Homo sapiens: one gene and its partner. The protein of the gene in region 2 purifies or fractionates together with the protein of the main gene of each other region. This does not show direct contact. Each region holds a gene or a part of one and is shown on either strand. Other genes may lie near its edges. The genes, in order: TRIM62 and NRGN.

Region 1 (16,266 bases), on a different chromosome or scaffold from region 2:
GCATGCATGTGTATGTGTGTATGTGTGTGTGTGCATGTATGTGCACATTCAAGCATTCAAAGCCCTTCCTGAGCTGGTCAAGCCTTGCTTTTCCATTCTTACCTCCTCCTGCCACACCCTCCCCTCTAGCCACAACGAACCACCTGAACACATGTGTGCTCACCTCCATGCCTGTCCCTGGTCACACTCAGATAACCTGAGTTCAAGTTTCAGCTTCAGGGACACTTAGTGGTTTTCTGACCTTAAGCACAGTTTCTTTCTTTTTTTTTTTTTTCCCTAATTAAAAAAAATTTTTTTAGAGACAAGGGCTCACTCTATCACCTAGGCTGAAGTGCAGTGGTGCAATCATAGCTCACTATAGCCTCAAACTCCTGGGGCTCAAGTAATCCTCCTGCCTCAGCCTCCCAAGTACCTCACACTACAGGCATGCATCATGCCTGGATAATTTTTAAAAATTTATTGTAGAGATGGGGTCTCTCTGTGTTGCCCAGGATGGTCTCGAACTCCTAGCTTCTGGCCTCAAATGATCCTCCCACCTTGGCCTCCCAAGAGCTGGGATTAGAAGCATAAGCCACTGTGCTTAGCCTCTTTTTAAAAAAAATTTTATTGAGGTAAAATATACATATATACCTTATCATCTTTACCATTTTTAGGTGTACAATTCAGAGGTAGTAAATACATTTATATTCTTTTCCCCCCTTTCTTCTTCCCCCTTCTTCTCCCTTCTCCCTTTCCAGGCCCTTAGGCACAGTTTCTGTTTTTCCTTTTTGGTTTTTTGAGACAGGGTCTCACTCTGTTGCCCAGGCTGGCTGTAGTGCAGTGGCACCATCACAGCTCACTGCAGTTTCAACCTCCTGGGCTCAAGTGATCCTCCCACCTCAGCCTCCCAAATAGCTGGGACTACAGGTGCATGAAACCATGCCCAGCTAATTTTTTTGCATTTTTTATAGAGATAGGGTTTTGCCATGTTGCCCACACTGGTCTCGAACTTCTGGGCTCAAGCAATCCTCTTGCCTTGACCTCTCAAAGTACTGGAGTTACAGGTGTGAGCTACTGTGCCCAGCTAGGCACAGTTTCTGAGCCTCAGTTTCTCCATTTATAAAATGGGGCAATGAGATCCATCTCATAGGGTTACTGTTAGAATTAAATGAGAGGTAGGCTGGGGGAGAGAGAGAGAAGGAGAGCATGACTGCCTGTCAAAGCCTTGAACCCAGTCCGTGGAACAATCTGCACCAGGCTGTGCATGTTTTTGTTCCCTCTGTCCATAACATCTTTCTTTCTGCTCCCTGGCCTGAAGTACTCAGCGTATCTTTTAGGATTCAGCTCAACAGAGCAAGCCTCAGTTACAGCAACCTACCAGTTTATGGGCCTATCTTTCGGGACCACACAGGGCCAGGTCTTGTGTAGTTCTCTCCTGGGCCCAACACAGGGCTGGCCCTCTGTAGCCATGGCACAGATACTGGCTAAAGAAATTATGTGTGTGTGTGTATATATATATATACACACACACACATACATATATGTGTGTATATATATATATATATATATATACACACATATACATATATATGCACACACACATGTATGTATATGTATATGTATATGTATATGTTTATGTATATGTATATGTATTTTTTTTAAGATGGAGTCTCACTCTGTCACCCAGGCTGGAGAGTAGTGGAATAATCTCAGCTCACTGCAACCTCTGCCTCCCGGTTCAAGCGATTCTCGTGCCTCAGCCTCCCGAGTAGCTGGGATTATAGGTGTGTGCCACGAATGCCCAGCTAATTTTTTTTTTTTTTGTATTTTTAGTAGAGATGGGGGTTTCATAATGTTGGCCAGGCTGATCTCAAACTCAGGTGATCCGCCTGCCTTGGCCTCCTGAAGTGCTGGGATTACAGGCGTGGGCCACTGCGCCCAGCCCAGAAATTATTAAAGGAATCCCTGAATCCAAGACAGAACTCACCTCCAAATCTGCCTCATCCCTCTGAGTGTTCAAGCAGAGATGGAGGTCAGGAAGGTAAATGGTACTGGGAAAACAACACTGGACTGAGTCGGGAGAGCTGAGCTCTGGTCTAACCCTGGGCAAGGCAGTTTCCCCATCTGCAAAATGGGGAGCGTGTCAACCAGATGGTTTCTCAGGTTCCTCCCCATTTGGTGCTCCCTGGGACAGTTGGCGTGTTGGGAAGGAGGGTGAATTCTGAGTCAGAAAGACCACTTTGAATCTCAGCTCTTCCTCCTACTTGCAGTGTGATCTTGGGAAGGTTACTGAATCTCTCAGCCTCATTTTCTTCATCTGTGAGATGGTACTGATCTCAGTCCCACTCAGGGAGTAGGGAACGAAAAAATCCTTGTGAGAATCAAATGCCTATAACACAGCACCTGGCACACAGTAAGTGCCCCATAACTTACTTTGTGCCTCCAAAACTTGGGCTATAATTTTATAGAGTCATTGTTTCATCATTGTTAGTCCCTACCAGGTCTTTTTTCTTTCTATAAAATAAACATCTTGGGGTCCCCAATGTTGGCCCTAAGCTTCTACACTGTGGCCCGTGCTCAGCAAAGGTATCCTGGCTGCCCAGACACCTGTGAAGAGGGATGTGGAGATGCCAGCGGCCAGCTCTGAGTTTGACCCACAGCCAGCTTTGCCCTCACAGAGGCTGCTGTTGGCATAGAAATCCTGCCCTCTCCTTGGAAAAGTAACAGCAGAGCCACTTCCCCACAACACAGACAACCCAGCTGCCTTCCTGTCCATGCTACAAAATAAAGTGCCTCTGAATCTCTCATTTCTTTGGATATTTAGCAACTCTTTCTCTCTCTTTATACAGAAAGCAGGAGGGCTAGTTCTTACTTCCATTTCTCAGATTGGGTAAGAGGGTGTCACCCCCTCTCCTGGAAGAAACCAGAGCCGAAATTTGAACCTAGCCCCCAGCCCCCTCCCTCCTTGGGTGGCTGCCTTGGTGTCACTGGATCACCATACCCTGCCTACCAGGGCTTGCGTCCAAGGCTGATCCACTGCTGTCTTCTCTGGCATGAAGGAAGCCTTGGGAAGGGCTCCAATGGTCACATGAGGCCTGGAGGGGGCGGCTGAGACTGAATCGGATCCCCTCTCTGGGGGTTAGGAACCTGAGACGGCCAGAGAGCCGGATGCCACGTCTGCTCTGACCAAGATGACGTCCCAACCACCTGCCCTCGGGGCGTCAGCTGGCACAGATGGCCTAGCCCTGTCAATACAGGACAGGCAGGGTGGCTGGGAGACAATTACCCAGCCCTCAGAGGTAGCTCAGGGACGGTATGTGGCCTAGTCAGACTGGCTTCCAATCCTGGCCCTGCCATTTACCAGCTGCGTGACCAAATGAGTCACTTAATTCCTCTGAGTCTGTTTCTTCATCAGTAGAAGAAATAGATAACAATACCCATCCCACAGGGTGCTATGAAGATTAAATGAGGTAATGCAAGAAAAGCCCTTAGTGCAGTCCCAGGCATTCAGACTGGGCTCGATGAATATTGGCTGAGAAGCCCTGAACTCTTTGGAAATGGGCTCCTTCCCTCCACTTTGCTCAGTGGTCCAGGTACTCAGCAGTGGAGGTGGGGAGGAAGACACCAACACACATACACATGCACACACACACGCACACACACACACATGCACACACACACATGCATGCACAAATGCACACACATGCACACACACATGCATGTACGCATGCACACACACGCACATGCACACCCACAGGTTACATAAAAATCCTTAGAACTGTATAGTAACTCCTGCCATGTTTCATGGGGTATTATTATGGGGGGACTTTAACTTTTACATTATACAGCTCTGCTTCTTATGTTAATTTTATAATCAGAATAAAGACATTTAAAAATAGTTTTGGGGTGCCTACTATGCCAGGCACAGTACTAGGCACTTCTGATAAAGGATCCCTAACCCTTACAACATCCTTCCCAGGAACATCATATCCTCTTGTTATAGATGAACCTTAGAGAAGGAGCCTTAGAGAAGCAAAGTGACGTGACCAAGGACACACAGCATGTCAGGATCTGACCCCTGTGATGTAATCTGGAGTACAAAGCAATTGTGCTTAGTAGGTCAGGGAAGGCTTCACAGAGGAGGTGATATTTGACCTGAAGTTTTAAAGTTCAGTGGGACTTTTCTAGGTCAGGTTTCTCAACTAGAGGTGATTTTGACTCTAGGAGACATTTGTCAATGCTTGGAGATGGTTTTGATTGTCACAACTTGCGGGGTGGGTGGAGTTTGCTACTGGCATCTAATGGGTAGAGGCCAGGAATGCTACCAGACTTCCTATAACACACAAGATGGCCCTGCACAACAGTTATCTAGCCCCAAATGTCAATAATGCCGAGTACGATGTAACCTACTATAGCTGTCATTTATTGAGTGCTGTTAGGTGCCAAGTGCAGTACTAAGTTTTTATAAACATCATCTTGTTTAATCCTAATATAATTACTTCCATGCTGTCCATGAAGGACCCAAGGCTCAGAGATGGTAAATAATCTTCCCAAAGTCACACAGTAAATGGTAGAGCCAGGATTGAGATTACCTGGGTACAAAGCAGGGCTCTTAATTTCTCTGCTCTGATGCCTCAAGGATTTATAATAAATGTAAAAGCTGCACGCCAACTGCTAGGTAGGGTGTTGGGAGACTCCAGCTGAGTATAGGCCCAGCTTCCTCTGGCTTCGAGGCCTTAGGCAAGTTCCCTTCCTCCCTCTCCCTCTCCTGTTTCCCCATCTGTCAAGTGGATGTGGCACCAGATCATCTGCATGGCTCTGAGTCTGTAATTCTGCAGAAGGGCCCCAGCTCCATCAGCTGCTGGGAGAGAAGGGGATGTGAGGGTGGGTTCAGCCTTATTTCTGCTGCATAAATAGCTAATAAGCCTTGCCTTCCCCATATGGAGGGAGAGGCAGGTGGGGTGGAGGGTGCCTTGAATCTCACCCAGCAGCACATCCTCTCTAGATGGGAGGCAGATTTCTCTGCCACCAAATTGCCAAGCCCAGAGGACACACTAAAGCAAGGCCTCCTTCTCGGGCCAGAGAGGAGAGTCTGGGCATTCACTCAGCTGGGCACATGAGCTCTCACAGGCAGAAAGAGAAAAGGTGGGCTGTATGTTATTCCAGCCCGTACTGTGTGCCTTTGAACCTCAAATAGCAGGTTAATCCCAGGTCAGCTTCACAAAAGTCCTGGTAGGAAGGAAGCATCCTGACCCCATTGTACAGACAGAGCATCAGCGTTTACATGAAGTGACTCACCAAGGTGCACACAGTGCCCACAGCAGGTTTGGAACCCAAGTATGTCCAACCCCACAACAGTGCACTAGAGAGTAAGCAAGTGGCAGTCCTGTTTTACTTTTCACCCAATAATGAAGCATTTCAATAATATTTGTAGGTAATACATGTTCAATTTCTCCTGTGTCCCCCAGGTCATGGGATAGAGTACAGAAGCCCAACATACAGTAATTTGGATTTCCTGGTTTGCAGACAGGAGAACCAAGGCTCTGAAGCAGAGGCTAGAAGGTCAGACAAGGAGGGGAGAGATCAGAGAAGAGGGATCTGGGTCAGGCTGTGCCCTATAGCCCTGGCTCTCTCACTGTCTGGAAGTGTGGCCTTGGGCAAGTCACATAACTTCTCCAGGCCTCACTTTCCATTCCTACATGATGAAGAGGTTGGACAGATGGTTTCAGACAGAGTCCCCTCAAACTCTTCCTGCTTATGTGACTCCATAGACGGGGAGATGGACAGCAGCAGCGCCTAAAACGATGGCTCTGGGGGTGGAGGGCCAAGCCTTGTGCAGGCTCCCAGAGGCCCAGGCCCTTGCTCACCCTCTGATGGGGCCTTCATCCTCAGACAGCTAGACTGGAAGGGAGTCAGTTGTAGTTTTGAGATAAAAGGGACAGGGAAGGAGCGATGGTGAACATGGGCCATTTCTCCTGAGGCCCATGGGCATCTGCTGGGTGCAGGCCTACTCAAAGACTAGTGTGTGGAGGGGTTGGGAGCCCCTACAATACAGGGGAAAGTAATTATTTAGTTTCTGTTTGAGTATCTCGAGGCCAGAGAGCTCATTACCTCCCAAGTTAGCCCACTCCATTTTCATAAAATGTTTGAGCCAAAAACCTTCTGCTTCCAAACGCTCCACAGTGTGGTCCAGCTTAGGCCAGGGTTGGTCATTCTTTCGTTCATTCATTTGGCCTTTATTGGTGTGTACTGTGGGCCAGGCCTTGCACCAGGCTTTGGGGCCATAGATAGGAGAAATAAGATTCTGTCTCTGGCCTTGGAGAACTACGTGCTCGACTAGTATCCCAAAGCCAGGTACATGGGGCTGCTGGATTTAAGTGATTTAGCTTGAAAAAAGGATTCCAGGCCCAAGTAAGCTTGGGAACCATTTTATTAAACACAGTAAAATAGATTTATTTGCAACAAAATTTCTCTAAGCTTTTAATATGCAAATGCACACTGAAAATTCTCCAAGGGGGTGGGTATAAAAAATATACTATATTTCCCACACTTATTAATAGAGAGCATTTGGGGAAATGCAGTTCTAATGTTTTTGTTTGTTTGTTTGTTTGTTTGACCAGTGGAACTTGGAGAAGGCTTCACGGAGAGGATATTTGAGCAAGGCTCAATAAAAGTTGAGTAGGAGTTTGTCAGTGAAGACAGGAAGTCTTAAGGGAGACCGATTAGAGTTCTATGCCAACTATGCTCAGGTCACTCTGCATGTACCGTTTCACTTAGTCTTCAAAAGTCCTGATGTGGGGGACAGAGCCAAAGAGGTCATCAAAAACCTCTAGAGACTCCTAGAGGTCTAGCCCCTCCCTTCTTGAATCACCTTACATCTGGGCCTTATTCTCCAAATCTTTACCTTTAAGTCCTGGCCCCACTCAACCTGGCCTCTACTCTGGCTTAAATCTAAACTTGTTGTAGAGTATCCGGACCTGATCTCAGTCTTAACCCCTCATACACCTTGGCCTAACCCTCGGTACTCAAACCTGCCCTCTCAGCACTTTGGCACCCTAACTTATACCACTCTATTAGGTTTCACCCTCACCTGTCCAGCACATTCTAGCCCCCGTACTCCTCTTAGTCCTGATGCACATCTGATCCGGTCTCCGCCCCCACAGAACCCCCAGCCTGCCAGAGCTCAGCTACCCGGTTTAATACAGACCCATCCTCGCGACCTCGCCCTCAGTCTGACAGTGGCCCTGCCTTTGCCCAACTCTGATTCCGGTTCGTCCACAACCCTGCCCCAGCCCAGTATCTGGTCCAGTTCTGATCTCACTTGTTTCCGCCATCCCATCCGCATCCCCGACTTCTCCCTAACCGCGGACCAGCCGGTACTCCAGGTCTGTCTCAGATCCCTCAGGGTCCGGACTGCCCAAGGCCCCGCCCCCACGGCCCCGCCATGCGGCGGCCCCGCCCCTCCCTGCCCCGCGTTACTCCTGATAGGGCCCTGACCTTGCTGGCGGCCCCGCCCCAGGACCATTCTGACTGGGCCTGGCCCGCGGTCCAGCCCTGACCCCACCCCCCGCCCGGCCCCACCTCCAGCCCGGCCCCGCCCCTTCCCCAGGCAGGCCGGGTAGCGCACCTGCAGCTCGTCGAAGGCGTCGTCGATGCCGGTGACCTGATGCTGCTCGTGCAGTGCAGGCTCGTCGCAGAAGAAGCAGAGAAGCGCGCGGTCCGTGAGGCAGAAGAGCTTGACCTTGTCGTGCGCCTGGCAGGGTCGCGCGGCGCGGCGCGCGTTGAGGATGGCGTCCAGCGGGAAGGAGCTGTAGCGCTCCACGATGTTGGCCAGCTTGAGGCTGGGCGCCAGCGCGGGCTCGGCGAACGTGCGCCGGCACTCGGGGCAGTCGCGGGCGCCCTGCGCCTCCTGCCGCACCCAGTGCTCCGTGATGCAGCGGCGGCAGAAGTAATGCTCGCAGCCCAGGCTCACCGGGTCCTGGTAGATGCTCAGGCAGATGGAGCACAGCAGCTCGTCCTTGAGGCTGCACGCCATGGCGCCAGGGGCAGCAGAGAGGGGGGCCCGAGGGGCAGGGGGGCGGCTGAGAGAGCGCGGCGCTGTCGGAGGCAGCACCGAGGGCTGGGCGCGGGGACGAGGCCCGCACAGGCAGGGGTAGGAGCTACCGGAGAAGGGAGGGGGTGCTGTCCGGAAGGAGGGTAACGCGAGGAAGGGGTGCGCGGCTGAGACTCCGTGGGACGCCAGCCCGGGAGGGCAGTCTAGAGGTAGTGGGCAGCTCAAGGCGATGGGCGCTGGGAGGAGGCTGTGAGCGGCTGAGGGACGGAGATCCTGACGGGGAGGTTCTAGGGGGCGGGGCAGTCCTAAGGGATAGGAGCTGGGAGAAGGGGATCCCGGAGCGGGGTGGAGCCCTTAAGGGGGTCGAAATCCCGGGGTGGGGGCGGTGCGGGGAGGGCGAGAAGCTGGGGATGGGGAATCCTGGGGGAGGGGGCAGCCAGGCCGAGCCGTACATTGGCTGTGACCGGCAGAGAAGAGGAGGGGTGCCGGCCCGCTCAGCTGCCGGATCCCGGCCCCAAACCCTGGCCCAGCGCGACCCCTTACCCCCGCGAGCTTAGCAGCCACCGCTTCGGTCCAGCGCAGCCTCTCAACCCGGAACCAGCCGAATCCGAGCTGCCGGTGGCCGCGGCTGCCTCCCCGCCCCCGTGGGCGGGACCCAAGCAACTCCGCCCCCGCAGCGGGCGGGGGAGGGGCGGGGCCACCAGCCGGTTGACCCCGCCCCACCCCCACCATCCTCCAGCTCCCAGGGAAGCGAAGCCCAGCTGTTCCTTCGGGGTGTGTACTTGGAACTGCATCCAGGTCTCGCTTAGGGTCCCCGCGGCGAGGCGGAGCAGCTAATTTGAGAGCACAACAAATAAACAAGGAGCATCTTTCTGGATCATCGATTTGAAGATGTAGAAAAAATCATATTTTGTATTAAAACGAACAAGAATATATTTGGAATACAACTTCTGCATAAAATATAAAGATAAAACTCTTGAAATGCCCTGCTTGCTTAGAGCGAGTTCAAGGCCCTCACACTCCTAAGCCCTGGGGTCCCATTTCCTCTTCACTTTCTTAAGGAGTGCTTGGGGAGAAGTTTGGAAAGCCCTGGCTAACATCTGGCCCCGGAGGCTGCCTCCATTGGCAAACAATTCTGGAGTGCTGTATTTGTGTGTGTGTGTGTGTGTGTGTGTGTGTGTGTGTAAGGCGGTGAGGGGTGGAGCAGGAGAGAGGGAGAAAAAGTAATAGGAGAACTTGTCTTGTGTGCCAGATGGAGAGGGGATAAGGGATTTCTAGGCAGAGGAGACAGCCTGTGCAAAAGCATAGAGGCGTGAAAGGGGAGGGCGCAGTGAAGGAAGTGCTAGTAATTCTGTACTGTTGGGGGTGGGGTGGAGAAGGAGCCTGGGTGGGCTGGAGGGCATTGTGGGTCATGGTAAAGAATTTCTTGAAGGCATGGGGCTTTCAGGCAAGGGAATGACCTGGTCCGATTGGGTTTCAGGAAGTCTTGGAGATAATCATTATACCATCTGCAAGGTGAAGAAGACAGGGAGCTTTTCCAATGTGTCTGCGGATGCACAGCACTCAGCACACAGTAAAGGTGTGTAGCTGAATAACCGCATCAACGCCCTGGGTTGCAGGAGGAAGGAAAGACTGGGCACCCCTAAGGTGCTGTTGTCATCGTGCCTGCAGGAGGTGAGACCCGAACTGGGGCCTCAGCAGTGGGTAAGGAGAGAAGACTAGGGTATTGCAAGTACAGACACGGTGACATTTGGTGATGGTTGGATACGGGGGTGAGGGAAATGAGCCATAGAGGGTGGCTACCAGTTTCTGCCTCCTCCAGAAATATCTTCATTGGTGTTAAACTTTATTGAGGTACAGTTTATGAAAAAGCTCTCAGTTTAGTTCTCTATGGTTAACACTTTCTCCATCACACCCTCATCTGGCCCAGAATCTCCATCATTGCGAGAAAAATAGTTGGTTGCTCATGCAACAGCAGTTTCTCAACATTTTCTTATGGGCAGAGCCCTGATTTTGGTCAGGTGGCCCCCTTCCCCAAGTGACCCAAGGAAGGCTGACCCCAGCCCATTTCCAGGAGTGAGTCTTGTTTGGTCCAAGTCCATTATGGTGGTCTCATGGAGTGAGTCTTGTTTGGTCCAAGTCCATTATGGTGGTCTCATTCCTCTTGCCAGTGACGGTTTGGGCAGGTCCAGCCTGAAAAACTAAAGGGGAAGCCTATGGCAGAGAGGGGTTTTCAGGAAATGGTCTCTTTACTTTGCAAAACAGTCTGCCCCCTTTGCTGGGATATGTTTGGTGGCAATGCTTGGAATTGCAACAGCCATCTTGCTCCCAGTCTGAGGATGCAGCAAATACAGAAGGGAGGGCAAGGCCAAGAGAGTCCTAGGGAAGAGAAGCTTTTATTCTGATGCAGAGTCTGGACTTCAGGATATGTGAGATGGTCCATCTTATTGCATAAGCCAGTTTAACAGTAGTGCATTGTCACTTTGCAACCCAGAGAATCCCAACTGATATACTGACGTGCACCCCTAATGAGGGGGTGGGGAAAGTGAACAGGGCAGAGTCTAAATTATTGAAGCATTTGAAATGAAATGAAAAAAAAAAAGGCTTGATGATGGATGAAACAGTGACTTCATTATTCAACATGTATTTACTGATGCTGACTCCAAGCAGGTCTTTGTGAGGAGGTGGAATAAACTATGCTCCTTGCTCCCAAGGAGCTGGCAGTCTAGAGGGCAAAATCAATGAGAAATTCTTATCAGGCACAGTAGGGCTTGCTAAGCATTCTCACATATATTATTGGATTTCAGTCCCAAAGCAGCCTTAACTAGTTTATATTATTATCCCCGTTTTATAGAGGAAGATACCAAGGCTCAAATAAAGGAGATGTGATGGAAATTGCTAGCTGTCCACTAAACTTCATCCTCCTGTTCTTCTATGTAGTAGAGTAGCAGTCGGAGGAATGGCTGGTCCACTAGAGATCATACATCCCAGCTGTTCTTGCAGCCGAGTGAGACTTGGTGACTAAAATCTTTCTAATAGAACATAAATAGAAATAGACCTTAAGGCATGAAGCTTTTGCTCTCCCATGCTCCATTTTCTCTTCTCTTGAGTTGGAACATAGATGTACCAGGGACACAGCTTCAATAATGCTTCAAAAGGGCTGATGGAGCAAAGATATGGGAGGATCCTGGGTTCCTGAATGACTGCATGAAGTACAGCCACCCTGACATGGACTACAGAGTGAGAAGTAAACTTATTTTCTAAGAGCCATTGTATTTTGGGTCTTTTGTTGCAGCAGCCCAGCTTTCTCCATACTATTTTGCAGCTGTTTTTATTATTTATTTATTTGAGATGGAGTCTCGCTCTGTCACCCTGGCTGGAGCACAGTGGCATGATCTTGGCTCACTGCAACCTCTGCCTCCCAGGTCCAAGTGATTCTCCTATCTCAGCCTCCCTAGTAGCTGGGACTACAGGCGCATACCACCATGCCTGGCTAATTTTTGTATTTTTAGTAAAGACAGGGTTTCACCATATTGGTCAGGCTGGTCTCAAACTCCTGACCTCAGGTCATCCAACCGCCTCTGCCTCCCAAAGTGCTGGGAATACAGGCATGAGCCACTGCGCCCAGCCAATTTTGCAGCTGTTTTTAGAAGAGGCTCTGGTACTATTTTACTCTATTGTCTAAATCCTTTCAGTAGATAGTCTTAATATGTAGGTCTAATCTCCTCCAAAGGACATAGTATGTGGTTTTCTCTGGCTGAAAGTCACAGACTCTTTTTTTTTTCTTTTGAGATGGAGTCTTGCTCTGTTGCCCAGGCTGGAGTGAAGTGGTGCAATCTTGGCTCACTGCAACCTCCACCTCCCAGCCTCAAGCAATTCTTGTGCTTCAGCCTCCCGAGTAGCTGGGATTACAGGTGCCCGCCACCACGCCAAGCTAATTTTTGTATTTTTAGTAGAGAGGGGGTTTCACCATGTTGGCCAGGCTGGTCTCAAACTCCTGACCTCAAGTGATCTGCCTGCCTTGGCCTCCCAGAGTGCTGGGATTATAGGTGTGAGCCACCGTGCCCGACCCAGTCTCTTCTCTTTCACTTTACTTCCCAGTGTTCAGTCCTTTTATCCTCTGAGCAGTTCTTCTCTTGACCTTATTCCATCTCCATTAAGATGCAGAACACTAAAACTGTTGATTATCTTTACATTTGGCAAGTCATTGCTCTCTCCACATCTGATGTGGTTGAGTGGTCTGAACTAAGACTTAGAGATCCTGACTGCAGTGTATGCCATCTGCTTCCATTCATACTCCAGAAATTAACATCAGGAATTTTTTTTTCTGGAAAGCTATCCAAGAGCTATTGTTGAGTGAGAAAAAGAAAAGAAAGACCCAAATACACTGACACATAGACACCCACAGACTTAGACACAATCACAGGCATTATTTGCATAACAAAAATTCTATAGAACTATATTCTAATTGTGTTCTTTTGTGGGCTGGGATTATGGGGGACTTTAACTTTTACATTAGATAGCTCTGTTTATTATATATATTTTTGTAATCAGAAAAAATAAAGAAAATTGATCCTCATTATTTATGGATTCCATATTTGCAAAATCACCTACTTCTAAAATTTATTTGTAACCTTCAAATCAATACTTGAGGCACAATTGCTATTATTTGTGGACATACTTATGTGCAGTGGTGAAAATCTTGACTTACCCACACATATGTTCCCAGCTGAAGGTGAACAAAGGGACACCCTGCCTTCTTGTCTCAGCTGTCATAGTGTAAACAAGTATTCTTTTTGTGACTTATTTGGTGCGAACCGTTCTCATTTTTTGTGCCTTTTTGTTGGTGATTTTGCTATTTAAAATGGCCCCAAGCATTGTGCTGAAGTGCTCTCTGGTGTTCTCAAGCACAAGAAGGCTGTGATGTGCCTTAAGGAGAAAATACGTGTGCTTGATAAGCTTTGTTCAGACATGAGTTACAGTAGTGTTGGCTGTGAGTTCAGTGCTAGTGAATCAACAATTTATATATTAAATAAGGGTCTCTAAGCAGAAACACACATAAAACAAAGTTGTGGCTGGGTCCAGTGGCTCACTCCTGTAATCCCAGCATTTTGGGAGGCTAAGGCAGGAGGATCACCTGAGGTCAGGAGTTTGAGACCAGCCTGGCCAACATGGTGAAACCCCCATCTCTACTAAAAAACAAAAATTAGCTGGGCGTGGTGGCGGGTGCTTGTAATTCCAGCTACTTGTGAGGTTGAGGCACGAGAATCACCTGAACCCAGGAAGTGGAGGTTGCAGTGAGCCAAGATCCCGCCACTGCACTCCAGCCTGGGCGACAGAGCGAGACTCCGTCTCAAAAAAAAAAAAAAAAAAAAGAAATGAGTTCACTCTCTAAATTAGTGCTTCTCAATGCATAGTCCTTGAGCCACATGTGTCTTAGCATGGGTTCTTCCAAGAACTGACCTTAAGATAAGGACTAAAGTGAAAATAGTTTATTTGGGGAGCATAAGTAACACTAATAGGGAAGTGGGAAGGTGATACAGGGAAGGGAAGGCAGCCCCATAAGGGTGCACTATTATCACAAAGGGGAACTGAAGATTTATCCTGCAGGGAAACTCTGGGAAATGGTACAAAACCTCAGAATGATCGATGCCTCAGAAGCATCCCACCCAAAGGGTGAGGGAGCTGGGGTATTTATACACCATGTTTGAGTGTTGAGGCTGCTCCCTGGTGGTGTTTAATTCTTTGGCACTTGTGAACTGTGATGTGTACAGTCAGCTCTCTGTAGTTCTGGGAAAATGATCCCTTAGCTACCATGTGGATGCTGGCAGTTGGAAGTCTTGGGAATACATTGACAGGTTTGAGGGACAATGGCAGGGCATTGACAGTATGTGTCACAGTTCACCCTTGCACCTGCTCAGATAAACTTGCATTCATATTAAGTTTCATGTTCTGTCACTGCTTCTTTGGGTGGTGGAAAGTCACGATTTGTTACAAGAAGAGAGGAGAAGAAGGAAGAGGAAGAGGTAGAAAGGATAACAGATAAGAGGAGGGACAATCTCCAGACCCCACTGCTGTAGTTGGTCCTAAAGTGTAACTGATGCTCAGCTTCCGACTCTACTACCCTTTCTAGATGCCCCTCACCTGGTCCAGCAGGGGTCACTTACTCCTGCCTGTTCAGAATCTCCTTTCTTAGCTTGCTGGTCTGCTGTCATGAGGATCCCAAAATTACCAGAGGCAGATATAATTTTAGGTTTAGTAAAACCACAATTATGTCCTCTGGTAGAAGTGATCTCTCCCTACCCTCTGAGAACTAGGATCTCTGGTTCAACAGAGCCTAAAGCTTTGGCAATAGAAAGCATAAATTTGCCAAGTGGGTCATTGGGAATAAAGGTGAGAGAGGCCACTCATTTCTTGGCTTCCAGACCTATGTATTCTGACTGTTGGGGATGTAGCACCCTTACAATAGCTATTGTCTCAAGTATAGAAATACATGTAAGGGAGGCAGGGTGTGATGGCTCACGCCTGTAATCCCAGCACTTTGGGAGGCCGAGACGGGCAGATCACGAAGTCAGGAGTTTGAGACCAGCCTGACCAACATGGTGAAACCCCGTCTCTACTAAAAATACAAAAATTAGCCGGGGGTGGTGGCGGGTGCCTGTAATCCCAGCTACTCGGGAGGCTGAGGCAAGAGAATCCCTTGAACCCAGGAGGCAGAGGTTGAAGTAAGAGATTGTGCCACTGCACTCCAGCCTGGGCAACAGAATGAGACTTCATCTCAAAACAAACAAACAAACAAACAAACATGTAAGGACAGGTTCTCAACCCTATCTTCAAGCTGATGACTTAGCTATGCCTTCAAGTGGTTATTCCAGCATTTTCTCAGGATGCAGCCCTGGTTGGTATGGTAAATAGCAGGACCAGTGAATAACATGGTCATGTGCTCACTTTCTCCATGGCCATGTTATGGGGGAATGCTTTGATGATAAACTGCACACCCTGGGAACTCTGAGAGAGTGCTGCTGATCATGACATTGTGGACAGAGAAGGCAAATCTGTATCAGTCCCATGAAGTCATAGAAGAGTCACAGCACCTCCAGGGTGGTTGGGTCCAGTGTAATCAACTGGCACCATGTGGCTGGGTGCCCTCCTTGAGGGGTGGTACCATGTCAAGAGCTCAGCCCTGCCTGTGCTTTGACAGATTGGACACTTAGTAGTAATACCTAGGTCAGCCTCGGCCAGAGGAAGCCCATGCTGTTGGGCCATGCGTGGCTTCCATCCCTCTTACCATGGCTTCTCAGTTATGGGTCTGTTGTGCATGCTCTGGGGCAGCTAAGGAGAGAGATAAGCTCATTTCCACTGGATGAATCATCCTATCTAACTGATTGTTCAGCACCTTCTCTGCGATGGACACCCTCTGGTAGACAATGAAATGAGACAGAGACCCACATATTTTTGTGTCTTCTCTCAAAGATCAATCCACATGCTTCTTCCCCAGACCTCCTTAACTGCAATTTTGCAGTCTTGCTCTTCACGAGTCCCTGAGCAATCAGCTGAACTGTTCACTACTGCCTGGGATTCCTGACCTCAGGCCACGACTCTTTCTGCACCAAGTTGATGACTCAATGCACCGCCTAAAGTTCTGCCCCTGCAAAAAATTCTCCACATGGCTGTTCTTCAGGAGCCCTTGAGTGGGACTGTAGTGCAGTAAGAGTGCACTTTTGTTTTCCACCAACCTATTGTGCCAACCTGTCCATAAACCAGGCCTAAGCTTTTTCCTCCTCTGTCACCTGGTCATCAGGAATCTCTCATGATTTCATAAGTGTGAGCTGAGGGGAGAGGTTCCAATGCAGGGATCACAACAGGGGATTCTGGGCCTGCTTCTGTAGTTTATTTGTGACCTCTGGTCCTGCTCAGGCCTAGTTCATGACAACGTTCCATGTCCACCCTTCAATGGATTACTGTTGCACATACTCGACTATACAGTTGGGTGGATCTGACAGTACACAACTTACAATGGGAAACTCTGGCTATATAATCAGTTGATCCCCCATATATATATATTCTACATCGTTTATTGTAACTCTTGTCAGTTGTTAAGCTGTTGCCTCTTAGCGCCGCAACCACACTTCTGTATCAACTTGTGTAGTGCTGGGGCTGGGGTTCAGAAATTCACATTCCAGCATATATATATATATATATATATATATATATATATATATGTATATATATAC
Region 2 (16,650 bases):
GTCTCAATTCAGGAAAGAGAAGTGCAGGCAGGATTGGGTGCGGGAGAGCCAGGCCCATCACCAGCACCGAGTTAGGGGTCTGCAGAGCTGATTGGAGGGTGGGTTTGGAGGGGCAAGGAAAACAGCAGCAGGCACTCCTGGAGTGGCCGCCTGTCCCCCTGCTCTCAGAGGGTACCTCCAGCTCAGAAGGACCCAGTCTGAGTCCAGGGTTTTCCGTGGAGAGGATGGAGAAGCCTCAGTCCGCCAGCCCTCTCCCCAGTAGAAATGCAGAAAGCTCACAGCTGGAATTAGGGAGAGGATGGGGATACTAGTCAGTGAGCCAGCCTCCCCCGACCTAAGGCTAGAGGCCCAGAGATTGTTTTCCCATTGACTCTTCATTTTCCACTGCCCAAGGATGAACTCAAACACAGGAGATAGGAGATGATTTGGATGAAGTGATAAAGAAAAGGCTTCACTCCAAGAAAAAAAAGAAAAAGAAAAGAAAATGAAAAGACCTGCAGGAGCAAGAAGCCCTTTCCAGGGTGTGCTTATGAGGAAGAAGGGAATTATGGTGATAGCTACCACTTAAGCACTTACCTTGTTCCAGGTGCAATAACGGTGTTTTACAGGCATTATTTTATTTAGTCCCCCAAAATAAAGCTATTACGTACCTTTTTATCATTACCCCTAATAAAACTAATGATTAGACTGTTTAAAAACCTACCTGGGTCATACGGACAGTTACCAGTGGACCCAAGATTCAAACCTTTGTATTTCAGAGTCCAGAATATATATTTTTACCCCTACTTTGTAGGATAAGAAAATGCAGCCCAGTCAACCAGCCAAGGTCTACCATTTGCTATAGGTGTGTGGCCTTCGGCAAGTTATCTAATCTTTTCCTATCTCAGCTCCTTCCTCTAAAATATCAGGATAATGGTATCCACCTCTATGGGTCGTGGGGAAGAATAAACAGCATGATATGCATAAAGTCTCTTGCACAACCTAGCTGCTCAATAAATGGTAGCTTTTATGCTTGTCTTAAAAATAACATTAAGTTAATGTGAAATAGTCATTTTTGTAGGCCAAAAGTGGTCATATAATAACAATTTCATATGGTTCAACCTAATAATAATCAGGCCCACCTCTATGCCCCAAACTAGGTTTCTGCTTCTCTGACAGCCTGCCCTGGCTGAAAGTAGAAGGCGTGAGGGGATTGATGGTATAGATTGCAGAGGAAAGGCTATGGAACGGAGAGGAATTCAGCCTCTGAGCCCTTTTGTTGCATTAACATTACTTGCAGTATTAGTGTGGGTCAGGATGGGGATGGTTACTATGAAGTTAGAAGGACATTTCTCCTTTGATCTGGCTCACTGGCTTCTAGGAATTTGCCTCCTTCTTTTTTTTTTTCTTTTCATGAAGTCTTCCACTGCTTTGACTATCTTTTTCTTCTAGGACACGAGATGACCAAGGTTTCACATAATAATGGTAATTCAGTTCTGCACATTAGCTCTCCCTGCCATCATCCATCCGGTTCATAGAAGTGGACAGGATATGAGGAAGGCTTCAGTGATCACTGTCCTAGCCAGATTCTGCCCCAGGACCACAAGCTTAAACTCCAGATGCCCAAGCCCCGGCTTATAAATGGTTCCCCTCGCCATGTTTCCCAAGGTTAGCCTCATTTCCTGGGCTTCACATTCTTCAATTCGTGCTCAAGATGCCCATAATCGATTTAAACACAGTTAAAAGGAGTTACATTTTGGTAGAAGAGTCAAAAAAACAGAAAGAAAAAAAGAGTTACAAAAAGGCAGGTATGGTTGTGGAAAGGCCAAACACAGGTCTAGGGTGCTCAGAAAAGACTCCTTTGGAATGTTTTATTCTTAGAGCTCAAGTCTTTCTTGGGATATCCTCAGGGAACAGTGAGGCTTCTTCTCAAGAGGGTGACAACCATAAAAAAGCATTCCTGACCTACCTTTCCTCCTTGGCCTCGCAGCTGTGGAGGAGTGGGAAGGTTGAGTGGAGGAAGGGATATCTGCCTCCAACCACGCTAGACCCGACCTGCTGTCACCGCCCGCCCCAGCTGGATCCAGAATGGAAACCTGGAATAGCAGGCAAAGCCACCCCCGACACTCCATGTTCCTCCCCAGAACCAGCTCCCTCTCCTACCAGCTGAATTTTCAGGACAGAGCTGCCAGGTGGCCAGTCCACAGGTGGAAGTGGAAGGAGATTGAAAGGACCTGGGAAGAGGTTCATTGGTCATGGTGCCTGGCTGGTGCTTTCCAAAGCCAAGGTTGCTGGTGTGTGCCTGACAGTTCCATAGGAAGTAGGGACTTCTGGGAGGGAGGAGGAGGTGGAAGGTGCCCTGGTCAGCAAAGTGGGGTCCAAGCCTTCTAGTCCCAACTGGGCACATCACTTCATCTCTGAGAGTCTCATTTTCTTCAGCCACAACTAATGAACAAAGTCTCCTTCAGCTCCCAAATCCGAATAGCTTTAAGGATATCCCCTGCTTGCTGCTTGTTATTATGTCAGGCCCTGTGCTAAGCGCTTTGCATATATTACCTCATTTAATCCCCATTTTGGAAGTCAGGAAACAGCCTCTGAGACATTTTGTAACTTAGCTAAGGTCACTCAGTTGACAAATAGTGAAGTGATGGGATTCAGTAGCCTCTGCTGCTAGCCACTGCCTCAGGGCAGGTAATTATTTCTATGAATTCAGCAGGGCCAAGCCAACTAGACTAAGCAAAAGAAATGAGGATCCAAAAAAATTCATGCGCTTTTTCATGCGCGGTGAATGCAGGAAAAGTCATATATATATATGGCTATGTAAATCAGCAACTGCAATATTTGAATCAGCATGAATAAAAAACCATTCCTCTGTCTCTTAAAAAAATAGGCAGATCTGTTTTCTTCTTCCTCATTTCTATCTGAGCCTCTGTACCAAGGAGAAACGGGAATAAGACAGGACTAGATTCTTCCCAAACACCAGGTGATGCGGTCAGTGAGGAGAGCTCCAGAATCAAAAGATGAAGAAGGACCTGCCTCTAGCCCCCAAGAGGTATGCTGTTCTTCCCACACATCTCAGCTCTCTCCCAGCACTGAGTCCAGCCCTCCACAGAAAGGGGAGGAAAATGCCCACCCCTAGCCCTGCCCTTCCCCAACCCTCCACACATCACTCCTTCTTCTTCCTGCCCTCCTGCACAGTCTGATAATGGTGCTCTCTCTTGCTCAGCCCTTTAGCCCTGCAGACCTAGGACAGGGCATGACTTGGGAAGGCTCCTGTGCACAGGGTGCACTGGAGGAGGTGCCCCAGGCCCTGGGCCATGGAGATAATTGTGTATCTGCTTCTCTTTTACCTTTTGGGTGGGTAGCCTCTCCTTTTTTAAGGGACACTGACTTCAACCATGTCTACTAATCCCTCAGTATGGCTCCCTGGGCACTCAAGAGCAACAGTTCCAGGCAGGGACCCCCACATCCTACTCTAATTACTACTGCAGACACAGAGGAGACCAATTCCATTCCTTCCCTGGCCTCTTGGATTCTTTGTTTACTCACCTCTTTCCAGTGACCACGTCTCCCACTTCCCCTTCCCCAGCAATACTCCCCTGTCATCCTCACCTCTCCCCTCCCCCCAGCTCATTTCCCAGAACCCACCATCCATTTATCTTCTCTACTTTATACAACACTGCTGGGAGGAAGGGCTCTTCCTCAGTGGAGCCCAGGAACCTCCATGAGGAGCCCATTTCTCCCTTCACAACCAAAAAATTGCTTCCTGTAGAATAACAAGCAGAGGGAAAAGGCTGGAAGGAGATATGTTATCGGGGTGTTCTCCAGGGGGTGGGACTGTAGGTGACTGACATGTTTGTTTTTCATACTTTTCTCTAGGTTTTACGTTTTCTATTATGAGCAGATTACTTTTATAATCAGTAAATATTTAGAGGAGAGGTTAAACCACAGCTCTTCGAAGAAGACAGGGCTATGTTTGAATCCTGCCTCCACAGTTAGGAGTCATGCTTCCTTGGAAAAATCTAACTTTCTAAACCTCAGTTGGCACATCTGTGAAATAATACCTACTTCACAGGGTTGTTGCTATGATTAAATATAAAGTGCTGGCTACAGGGCAGGCATTCACAAACTGGCAACTATTACTTAAACTAATAAGAGTTAAAATCGCAACCACCACCACTTGCCCCTAAGTGTTCTCTGCCTCTTGGTACCCAGACATGGGAAAGTCTCACCTATTATAGAACTGGGCTATCCTTCCCTTCCAAAGCCCACTTTTTTTTTCTTTACTATGCCATAAGGTGGCAAAGTCAGTAACCTCGTGTATCATTAGCTGGTTGACTGAATGACTGAAAATACAAGGACTTTGGAATAGTCTTTCTCCAAGTGCAGAGGCAAAAAATAAATAAGCAAACAAATAAATTTCATATACGTATGATCACTGTACTCTTCCAGTGAGGCAGGAGCCAGGGCCTATGCCAGGCGCTTTCATACCGAGTCACCTTTACAGCAAACCCCTCGGGCGCTGGGCACTTGCAGTACCCAGGTTTCCGCGTGGGCGCTGACAAATTGCAGACACTTCCTTTCCTCGCCAGCAGGGCTCTCTCGCGGTCACTTCACCCAGCCCCTTCCGAGCGAGAAGGCCTTGGGGGCCGGGACAACCCCTCCCCAGAACCACCCTGACTAGGCTCTTTGCAGCCAGCATCACTACCGAGCTAACCAATATGGACCAGCCTGCGCTGCACAGGGCGCTTAGGCGATCGTTGGAGGGTCATGAGGATCAGCCTGTCCGCCCACCGACGGCGGCGCAGTGGGATGGGGAACGGGGTGGGGGCCGAAAGACGGGAGGAAGGAGTCGCTGCAGTGTCTCCAGGCGATGGTTGCCAGCGTCTCACTGGGGAGGAAGTTCCTCCTGTCATCCAACCCGCAGTTCCCCTCTTGCAGAGCCCTGCCGAGCTCCCAGTCCAGCCTAGGCTGTCTAACGGATGGGCGCTCAGACGCCCCCGCGAGTTGAGGAGCATTTTTCCTAGGGCTTCCAAGTCGGGCGGGCGCCTTCCACCATCCACCACCCACGTCTCGGCAAGGACCCCTTTTCTTTCTGCTCCTAGGTCTTCCGCATCCACTTCCATCCCTCTCTCGCCCTCCAGGGCTTTCTCAGGCGCCTCTCGCAGCGGACCCCGCCAAGTGCCCCTCCCCCGGGCCCTCTAACTTACGGTGCAGCAGTCCATGCTGGTGTCGGGGGGTCCTCTGCGGGGACGAAGGCTGGCGCAGGGCGGGGGTGGGGTCTGTGTGGTGCCGGGTGGGGGCTCTGGGGCAGTCGGCCGCCAGCCGACCCGCGCCGAAACAGCAGCTCTGCTCTCGGGTCCGGTCTCCCGCGCTCGGCTCCGCTCGCGAATGTAACCTGAGCCCCGCGGCCGGGAAGCCAATCAGGAGCAGCCTCCGGCAGGGTGGGCGGGGAGAAGTGGAGGGAGGGCCACGCCCTCTCGCGGCTCTCTGCGCCGCGCTCCCGCTCCTGCCCCAGCCCCTCCGCCTACACGCTTGTATCCAAGCCTCCTACACACTCCATCCTCCCGGGCGCAATCCCCTGGCTTGCTAGGCGGCAGACTGCCAGGCAGATGTACGCCGGAGTAGGCAGAAGGAGGCCCCCGACACCCCGAGCACAAACACCCACATCTGGGCACAGCACCTACTCCCGCTCAGAGAAAACCACGCACCCCTCACCCATCCCTCCATACTTCCACAACCTAGCAGGAGTCCCAAATATGGCTCCCTTTCACTTCACTCCCCCTCAGTCCGCAAAGAAAGGCTCCCTAACGGGCGGTAAAAAGGTCTCATCATCACTCCTGCTACAGACGGAGAAACCTGTTGGTACAACCTGGCGATGGGCATGCGTCCACACAAAAGCTCACAAGCCCCACATGTCCACATATGATTTTCCCAGGCCTTCTTCCAGCATACAGACACTGCAGATACAACCTGCAAAAATAACTACGCAGCCCTTCAGTTGCAGGTAAATGCGGACACCCTGTTGCGGGCGCCCGCGCGCTCACGCACGCACACGGACAGTCACCCAACTCAAGCTGTCGGCATGACGTATCTATTATCGATCTGTCTACATGAGCTGCAACAAACAACATCATATATGCACAACACCTATTTTGTATGTATTTATATATGGGCACAGACTTGGAAGAAGTATCCTCCTCCCTTTCATACCAGACTCTGCCTAACCTTTTGATCTGCTGCCTCAGAATAAGACAAAAGCTGGCCATCCTCGCCCTTGCTCCTGAGAAGAAGAAAAATACCCTAAACCCAAGTGTAGAGAATTCGAAGTAATTGGCTCTTGGGTCCATGATGAGGCAGGATGTGGGCTTCGTGAGAGGCTGGGAAGGGGAGCTATGGAAAGAGCATCTGGGAGGGACAGACTGCCACTGTTGTGGTCGTCAGCCTCCCCCAACTCGGCAGGGTACAAAAGCTGGCAGTGTGGCTTGTTATGTGGGTAGGGTAGGCCTTCTCTGAGAAAACTAGAAAGTCTTCTCAGCTAAGGTCCCAGAGAAGGGAAGGAGGAAAGGATGGCTCCTGCTGGGAGCAAAGGTGGGAAATGCCCTGTGGCTCTGGTTGGGACAGCAGATCCTGAGACAGCTCTGCTGTGCATCCCCAGTCCCTGGCCATGACCAGGGACCACGTGGCGGTGACATGCTTCCTTTCCACCTAGATGTTTGGGCCCGAGGCTCTGCTTGCCAAAGGAAAAATGAGTGGGAGAGAAATGCCTGAGTCCATTCAGGGTGGGGATAAGGTTAGCCAGCTTGGGGTCCCAGGCTGAGCTGGATGCTGGCCGGGATTCCAGGGCTTGGGGTGTAGGGGTGTCTCTCCCAGCATGTTTGGGACCCACCCACTTTTGTAAAAAAAAATCTGTTCCCCAATCTGTCTCTGGCACATCTTTCATCTCCCCACCTCCTCCAAGTGGCCAGATGTCCTGGGAACTCAGGCCCTTGCCTAAATGACACGCACATCTGTGGCCTTCTGTTGTGCCAATTCCTGCTGGACTTCAACTCCAGAATCCAGAGAGGAGAGGAAAGGGGGAAATTGGGGGACAGAGTGGATACCAGGCCTAGACTCTGTGCTTTTCTCTTCCCAAATTAGAGCTGAGGAATTCGGGATTTGGTGAGTTTGCAGTCAAGTCTCCCAAGTTGCTAGGCAACATCCCTCTGCAGACTGCGCTGCCTCTGGGCCCTTCTTCCTGCTGGTCAGAACTGAAGGGGGGGTATCTTTACAACACCCCCCCCACCAACTCCCACACAGGCAGCACAGCCCTTCCCTCTTCCTGAAGGACACCTTTGTGTGGGGTGAGGGTGTCTCTGAACACTGGAGGGCCCATAGGAGAACAGATACGGCAACTGTCAGTTCCATCCGCAAAGCAACCATTTCAGCAACAGCCCACTCAAGGCGCCTACGCAGAACTGGCCACAGTGCTGGCCCTGGGGGATGGGCAGGCTCTGAGGTGAGGAAAAGACAGAGAGGAAGGCAGAGCCTGAGATGAGAAGACAGACACTCACAAACTCAAATACCAGTGGCAGGAGCAGTAACACATATGGCCTCATAGAAATTACACACACAGACCCAAAGATGCAGACACACACACTGCCCACACACCCAGAGACACACACCCTGCACGGGTTGTCACCCACTGACATCCAAAGACATGCTCAGCGTGGGCCCCTTAACCACTGTGGGGCCAAGGCACCCACTAGCGCTGGGGAAAGGTCCCTCTTCTGAGCCTCTAGGTGGCTGGGGTTTGTCAGCAAGGTGGGCTGGTGGGACTCAGCCTGTGATACTCAAATAGGTGAGCTAGGACAAAGGACAGATGCAGTAAGGGATGGCTGGGTCTGCCTCTGCAGGCTCTGGTCTTTGGCAGAATGATGCCAAGTTATACTCCCCATGGTAACCTGCCTGGCCTAGGGCCTGGGTGCCACCGGTCAACATTTGGAGTATGACCTACTGTCCAGATGGGCTTGGACTCGTAGTTGTTCTTGACTTTTCAAATTTTAAAGCTTCTCATCTACAGTCTCCAGCCCCCATAGCTACTGAAGGAAAACTGCTGGCCTGGAAAGGAGATGAGCTCTGGAAGGGAATGGCCAGGTTAGGGAGGCAACTGGGGCATGTTGGTGGGTGCCGTGGGATGGAGCCAGCAGGAAGCATGGAGATGACAGGGGTGAGGAATAGAAGCCAAGGCAGGTGAGGGATAGACAAAAGAGAGGATAAAAGATGGATTAGTGGGAAGCTCCTGTGGTCCAATACAGATTCTTCTTGGGACAGATGGAAGGGGATTTGGAGAGGGTTGGTCCTAGTAAGCAGGCAGAAAAGCCAAGGCACGTGACAATCTATTTCCCAATAACTTGTGGCTTCCCCTTCTCGGAGTGGGCACCTTCTGAACTTCACATCCTGGCTCAAGCCCGTGGAGGGACCCATAATCAGAAGGGGGCTAGAAAGTATGAGGCCTGTGTCTTTGGTGGAGCTGATCTGGGGGCTTCTTAGGTCAGGATTTTACCCATTTGAGTGGAGGGGGTGGAGGTAGCAGGAAATTCAGTTTTCTCTGCAAATATTTCAGCTTTTGCTGTTGTAGTATTTTTAGCAACCTGGTTGGCAGAGGAGGAGCCCGGGTACATTTTTAAAGGGGCCTCTGCCAGGCTGGAGGCCTCTTCCCACCCTCACCCCACATGTCAGGAAGGAGAGGGGGAGAAAGCACATGGCTTAAGGGGTCCATTCAAAGGTAGAAATCAGGTTTGCTGGACATTAGGTGACCGTTGAGTCATTTTCACCAGTAGTCATTTTGTTCTGTCATTGTCAGCATCATGATTGTTACCAGCATTATCAAGAGGAGTAAATATTTCTTGAACTTCTGCTATGTTCAGGGTGCTGCTAGAGAGGCAATACGGAAGGCTCGGTATAATATATTTGCTAAGATGGGGAAATAACCAATATTCTAGAGTGAGTTCTAGGCTAAATCTGAATAGCACTTTACAAAGTGCTACCACATCCATTATTTAAAGTGGTGCTCTCGAGAACAGTGTGAGGAGGTATTACTCTTTCTTTCTTTCTTTCTTTCTTTTTCTTTCTTTCTTTTTGAGACAGAGTCACACTCTGTCACCCAGGTTGGAGTGCAGTGGCACAATCTTAAGCAACCTCCACCTCCCAGGTTCAAGCGATTCTCCTGCCTCAGCCTCCTGAGTAGCTGGGATTACAGATGCTCACCACCATGTCAGGCTAATTTTTTTGTATTTTTAGTAGAGACAGGGTTTTGTCATGTTTGCCAGGTTGGTCTCGAACTCCTGGCCTCAAGTGATCTGCCTGCCTCAGCCTCCCAAAGTGCTGAGATTACAGGCATAAGCCACCGTGCCCAGCCTAGGAGGTATTGTTATTTCTAACCTCTTTTTCTGAGGAGGAAACTGAGGCTGGGAGAGGTTAAGTGACTTGCTATTTGTCCAGCATTAGATCTCTGAGGAAATGCAGAACTAGGACTAAAACCCAGGAGTTCTGACTTTGAATTCTGCATTTCTCCTGTACAGTGCTCCTAGCGTAAGCTAAGCAAATCAGACATAATCTCTTTTCTCTTGGATGTTGTAATCCGATGGAAAAAGTACATATATGTGCGTGTATAAAATAATGAATGATAGATACGAAAGGAATTAAGCAGACAGTAAATGTTCTGGGAGTTGAGGTGTGGAAGAAATGACTGAGAATTTGGATGGTCAAGGAAGCCTCCCTGGATGATGGTTTGAAGCAAGCATGAATCCAAAAGTATCTGAGACATGTATCAATCAATTTGGAGAGTTCATTTTGCCAAGGTTAAGGATGCACCTGTTGACACATCTTCAAGAGGTCCAGATGACATGTGCCCAAGGTAGTTGGGTATAAGCTTGCTTTACAAGTTTGTGCAAGGGGTACAGTTTGCTTTTATGCTTTTTAGGGAGACATAATACATCAATCAATACTTGCAAGATGTACCTTGGTTTGATCTGGAAAGGTGGGATAACTTGAAGCTGTGGTGGAGGGTGGTGGCTTCCAGGTTATAGGTAGATTTAAAATTTTTCTGATTGGCAATCAGTTAAAGGAGTTATTATCTAAAGACCTGGAATCAATAGAAAGGAAATGTCTGGCTTACCATGATAAGCAGAGTTTTATCATGCAGACAAAGCCTCCAAGTAGCAGGCTGCAGAGAGAATACATGGTAAATGTTTCTTATCAGACTTAATGTCTGTGTTGATGTTAATGCTGGTCGGCTTTTCCTGAATTCCAAAAGGGAGGAGGGTATAATGAAGCATGTCAGACCCCCTGCCTTCCCATCATGGCCTGAACTAGTTTTCCAGGTTAACTATGGAATGCCCTTGGTTGAGAGGAGGGGTTTGTTCAGATGGCTCAAGGGAGCCTTAGAATTTAATTTTTGGCTTACGCAAAAATACGACTTAGATAAGTGAAGAGGGCCAGGAGTGGGCAGAAGAGCATTTGAGGCAGGAGCAATTGTGAGCTATGCACCACACTTAGTGTCCCTGTGAGTGCATGCCATCCCAGCCCAGAAGGGCCCTGAGGTCAGCAATCCCAGTATCCTTCCTCTTACCCAGGGTTTTATGTCCAAAGCTCAGTGCTCTGAATTCATCTACAGTACCATAGCCCTGCTGCTCCTCAGAGCTCTAATGCACACCTGCCCCTTGCTCCTATAGATGTGCCAGGTGTCTGGATCCTCTGCCTTCATCCCATTTTTTCTAGGTCTCAGATGTAGTTCAAAATCCTGGATGCGGTAGCTCCTTATTCCTATTTTGCTCCAAACACCTACTTGTTCTTACCTTTCCACCTCCCTTTCCTCAGCTTGCTTCCCCACCTCTCCTAATGTGTGAAAGCTCTGATGGCTAAGCAATGTGTGTCCCTGCTGGGCCTGCACATCCTGCCTGCAAACATTAGACCAACACAATTTTTTTTTAATAACAAGGCACCAACCATTTGAATAACAAGCTCTAGAACAAACCTAATAATAAGCATTTCAGTGTTGGTTCAGACAACGACCTGTTTTAATTGATTTCTGCAAAAAGACTTACATGAGATGTAGTTTTTACCTTATTTCTTAGTCTATTTAAAGACGTTTGCTCCTTTTGTGGTTCTGCTGGATAGTCAGATCCAAGAAATTCCTGGTTTAACCAGCAATGCATGCCTGCTGAACCAAATGAGGTTTAAGCCATTCTCCCCAACATTGTCTACCTCTGGGCAGAAGGAAGGGGGAACTCTTATCCAGGAGAGCGATATTCTCTTAAAATCATCCAGAATGAGTGGCTCTTGCCTGCGTGTATGTGGTCAGCATCCCAGGCTCACACTTTTCCATGCTGATGCTCTCTTGGTCTGAGAGCTTGTACTGATTGTTCTAATCTGGATCCACTGGCTATGGCTATGTCATTAATTTGGCATCTAGTATTTATTGCCTCATATTAACACTTAAAAAACTTTTTTATTTTAGAAAAACTTAAACATATGCAAAACTAAATAAAGTAATGAACTCCACTGTACCCATCATCCACATTCAATAATTCTCAACTTATCATCAAACTTATTTAATTCATATGCCTTCTGATTCCCCCATTATCATTTCATTCATAAATATCTAAGTATGTCTCTCTGAAAAATAAGGACCCTTTAATGCTTACTTTTAAAGCATATGTTCATTAGCCTATACGTTCTGTGGGGAAACAGATTAGATTCTGAGGATCCAATGTACAATATGGCAGCTACAGTTAATAACACTATATTGTTTACTCGAAATTTGCTAGGAGAGTAGATCTTAAGTGTGATCAGCACACACACGTACACCAAAAATGGCACCTATGTGTAGTGATGGATGTATTAACTAATGTCATGTGCTAATCATTTCACAAAGTATACATATATTAAATCATCCCACTGTACATTTTGAATATATACAATTTTTATTTGTCAATTATACCTCAATAAAACCTGAAAAATATAAAATGAAGGCTGGGCATGGTGACTCATGCCTGTAATCCCAGCACTTTGGGAAGCTGAGGCAGGCAGATCAATTGAGCCCAGGAGTTTGAGACTAACCTGGGCAACATGGTGAAACCCCATCTCTACAAAAAATACAAAAATTAGCCAGACATGGTGGTGCATGCCTGTAGTCCCAGCTAGTTGGGTGGCTGAGGTGGGGGATCACCTGAGCCTGGGAAGTCAAGCCTGCAGTGAGCTGTGATTGTGCCACTGCACTCCAGCCTGATAGAGCAAGACTCTGTCGAAGAAAGAAAAATACAAAAATGTAAAGAAAAAAATAAAGAAAGAGATGAGAGATGTTTTCTTTACCGCTGTAGCCTTAGCACAATATCCAGAACATAGTGGATATTCAATAAATAGTTTTTGAATAATTGAATGAATAAGGCGGAGAATGAAAGAATGTATGTCAGAGGAAGCAAGCAGTAAAGAAAAGTATATTGCTGTGGTCAGGCATGACCTTCTTTGCAGCAGGTCATGATTCTGTTAGAGGTCCAGGTATGTCTTCAGCAACAACTAAGAAGTTAGGCCTTAAATAGGGAGGCAACTCTTCATCTCTCTGAGATTTGGTGCTGGGGCTTCCATTTTGAGGAGTGGAGACAGAGAGAAAGTTGATGCTGAGGTGGCCTCTTTTGGGGAGCAGTTGGGAGATAGAACAAGACTGGGCCTGAAAGCCAGGAAGGAGCCACGTCTGTTCCAATGTATCTGGTTTAATGTCACTCTCTGTCTAGTTCCATTTTATTATTTCCTTCCTTTAACTTGGTTAAGCAATTCTACTTTGTCTTAGCTGTGTGAGGGGACATTCAAAGAAGAGTTATATACTTGGCCTTGGGCCAGAGAGGCCAGGGTGGGGCAGTCAGCTTGGTGGCAGCAGTCCTTACGGAGGCATCACAAGAGGAAGCGACTTTAAGCCTTCATGGCCTTAGTGTCCTGTCGCAATGCAGGGATTTGTTTCCAGTGCTAATCTTGGAGGGTTTTATTTTTATTTAAAAAGAGGAGACATTTCTTTCATTGGGTGGTCTGACATAGCAGATCCCAATTGCTTAAATAAGCTCACAGGCTAATGACTTCTACCTATCAGGTCAAAGCGGCAGCCTGTGGGGTAGACGAAGACCACCTTTTCACTGCTGTTTATGAGGAATTAAGGGCCTAACACCTATCATCTCTAAACCAATCCAAGTCAGCCATCTGGCTGAAGATGGTGTTACCAATAATCATCTTCTACTGAGTTTTCATATGAGCTTCTCATATAAGTGTTGGCATGTTCTGAAGTTTTAGACTTCAGAAGAAAGAAGACATTGACAGGATTGTTCCAGTGGACTGTCGTCCGCTATGGCCAAGATACAGATGAGCAGATATTACAAGTCAGCCATTGCAAGGCCTGGGTGGCAGGCCATGTGCAAGCCAAGGCTTCTTCAAGGGTATACCCAAAGTGAAAGATACTTCACATAGCCCTGGACTTGGATCATGACACAGGAATTGGTTATATGAACAAATGTCTTTCTTTATGTAAAAATGAGAGTTCTCTTACCCAGATAAGCCCTGGCTCTAATCTTGGAAAATGATGATTATTTTGACTTTTCTTTTTCTTTTTGGTCAGACTGAAGCATTGAAAGGTAAAGGATTATTAACTACAAGTTTTTGCTATTCTGTAGTTTGGGTGGGACATTTAAGTTAAATGAGATAAGTAGCGATAGTTATTTGGGTTGCTGTATTTGTGTTATTTTTGCTTTGCCTTCATGGGATTGTGTGTTGGAGTGGGGTGACTGAGGGGAGAGCTGGGACGTGAGCTGTTTTTGGATTGGGTTGTTAGTGGAAATGTTTTCTCTGCTTAGAGAAAAGGCATGTTTAGAGAGAAGGAAATGAAAGTAAAAACCACACTTCATTTTGACTTAGGATAACTTTTCCATGGATGTTCAGTGTTCATATATACCTAGTAGAGAGAGTCAAAGGTTTGTACTGGATACAATCCTATCTAGTAGATGTTCTTCAAAAGAGGAAGAATATAAAGCTTGATCCTTAAAGGAGAGACAATATTGCTGTTTTTTTGTTTGTTTGTTTTTAATCTGGAGTCTCACTCTGTCACTCAGTTTGGAGTGCAGTGGTGAGATCTCAGCTCAGTGCAACCTCTGCCTCCCAGCTTCAAAGCGATTCTCCTGCCTCAGCCTCCTGAGTAGCTGTCACCTGCCACCACTCCTGGCTCATTTTTGTATTTTTAGTAGAGATGGGGTTTCACCATGTTGGCCAGGCTGGTCTTGAACTCCTGACCTCAAGTGATCCACTTGCCTCGGCCTCTTAAAGTGCTGGGATTACAGGTGTGAGCCACTGTGTCCAGCCTGAAGAAGAGAAAACACTTTCTGTTCCACTGGAACAGGATGGTGGAGCTATGCTACTTTACTATTTGCTGAACACATGTCAGATCATGACAGCAAGAAGGTCCTGCACTTGGGATAATAAGTGGGGCTGTGTAGACTGTAACGAAACCATCATGGCAGACACCGTTGCTTACCTAGTCAATATCCATGCAGTCCCTCTTCTTGCTTGATAATGCAACTGCAGTTTTGTTGGGGTGGTTGTGGATCCAGACATGACAACGGGTCATAGTCTAAGCCTGTTTAGGGCTAGTCATGAGACACAGATATAGCCAATGAGATACAAGCCAATTTCTGCTGAGGAATCTGAAAAAGCTCCTACTTCCCAGATAGGAGAGGGCAGATAGTACTACCAGCCCCTGTTTCTTATTCCCTCAAAGCAGAGCTGAAGTCTGGAGCTGTATCAGCTGTCTTATGACCATGAAGCAAAATGTCAACATGATAAAATCATGAGGGAAAAAAACCCTCATAATCCCATAGACTTAAGCCACTATCATTCAGTCTTTCTATAATAATATGTATAATATGTATATAATATGTATAATATGTATATGTATATTCAGTCTTTCTATAATATAATATAGTAATTCTATATGAATAAGGCTGGGCTCAGTGGCTCATGCCTGTAATCCCAGCACTTGGGAGGCTGAGGCAGGCAAATCACTTGAGGTCAGGAGTTCAAGACCAGCTTGGCCAACATGGTGAAACCCTGTCTCTACCAAAAATAGAAAAATTAGCCAAGTATGGTGGCAGGTGCTTGTAATCCCAGCTACTCAGGAGGCTGACACAGGAGAATCACTTGAACACAGGAGGCAAAGGTTGCAGTGAGTTGAGATTGTGCCACTGCACTCCAGCCTGGGAGACAGAGCCTGGGGGACAGAGAGCAGTTTTTTTGTCTCAAAAAAACAAAAAACAGATTTAAGTGAACGAATCCCTAATATGCCACAATAATATAAGAGATGTTCGAATGCATCAGATCAATGCACCTATCTTTTTGACAAGATGGGGACAGCATGTGGAAGTTGTTTCCAGGGATTCTTTGATAACAGACCCTGAAATGTCTAAGTTGGGATGCCTTGTAATTCAGACATAAATTTATGCAATCTTATGCAACCTTGATTTCCTAATGGGTTGTTCTAGCTTGGCTTTGCTTAGCCGAAAGAACCATTGCAGGATTCCAAGTGACTGTTTGTTGTTCCCGTAGTCACACTCAAGCCTTTGTCCCCAGTCTCTCTCATTATTTCTATCATGTCAACCTCTCCCAGTTGTCCCATGTCTGGAGTATGGGCTTGCTATAATTTGAATTACTAGTAACTAAGGAAAATTCCTTTAAGACAAAGATACCCAGAGATAGATGAGGACTGGATGGGTTTAGGCATTTTATCTCTTAGCCAAAAGGCCGATGTATATTGGTTTTAAAAAAGTGATAGGCGGTAGGCCCTTACTCCCTTATGAATGGCAGTGGCTGGCTGGTCCTCATTCCATCCAACTGGCCACTGGTTTGGCCTGGTAGGCAGCAGTCATTAATCCATGAACTTAGTCAAGGGAATTAGGATCAACCATGTCAGACAACCCAGTGAGGAATCTTCTCTTTTCTTTCAATGAAAACAAAACCCTCCAAGGTTAGCACTGAGAGAAGATTGATTAAAGGCAGAGTGAATGTTCATCTAGAGTCCCTCATTTGTGAAGCCTTTGGAGCTCCTTTGGGGAGTGGCGCCCGTTCTCTGCTGTTCCTGCAGACAGCACTCGGTAGTCCATAACAGATGCCAATCTAGTTATTCGGATATTCTGAAAGATTAGTTAGATACCCTTAGGACAAGGACTCCCTAAAAGTTCTTGTCTCCCTTAAAATGAGTATTATTTACTTTTAATTATTAGATGGAAATGGCTTATACTGAAAAGCAGAAACCTCTGGGACACTGGTAGGGCACTTCTTTTTATTATACATTTTTATTATTGTAAACCAATGTATATATACATATATACAAGGGCTTAAAAATTTATTTTAGGCTGGGCACTGTGGCTCACACCTGTAATCCCAGCACTTTGGGAGGGCAAGGCAGAAGAACTGCTTCAGCCCAGGAGTTCCAGATCGGCCTGGGCAACACAGTGAGACCCTGTATTTACAAAAAACGAAAATTAGCTGGGCATGGTGGCACACACCTGTGATCCCAGCTACTCAGAAGGCTGCGGCAGGAGGATGGCTTGAGCCCAAAAGTTCAAGGCTGCAGTGAGCTAGGGTCGCACCATTGCACTC

What was found.
Region 1: the proteins of NRGN (region 2) and TRIM62 purify together in Homo sapiens (affinity purification with mass spectrometry; 2 studies listed by BioGRID and IntAct, with this or other methods). This does not show direct contact.

What each region holds. Positions count from the first base shown.
Region 1 is NC_000001.11:33,173,419-33,189,684, forward strand, and holds the start of TRIM62 (E3 ubiquitin-protein ligase TRIM62), read right to left. Parts: upstream 8,626-16,266; 5' UTR 8,015-8,625; coding exon 7,607-8,014; intron 3,133-7,606; exon of another isoform or gene 3,035-3,132; coding exon of another isoform or gene 2,990-3,034; intron 1-2,989. UniProt on the Homo sapiens protein: E3 ubiquitin ligase that plays a role in antifungal immunity by mediating 'Lys-27'-linked ubiquitination of CARD9 downstream of C-type lectin receptors; leading to CARD9 activation, followed by activation of NF-kappa-B and MAP kinase p38 pathways.
Region 2 is NC_000011.10:124,728,639-124,745,288, reverse strand, and holds the start of NRGN (neurogranin), read right to left. Parts: upstream 5,348-16,650; 5' UTR 5,205-5,347; coding exon 5,190-5,204; intron 1,028-5,189; exon of another isoform or gene 394-1,027; intron 1-393.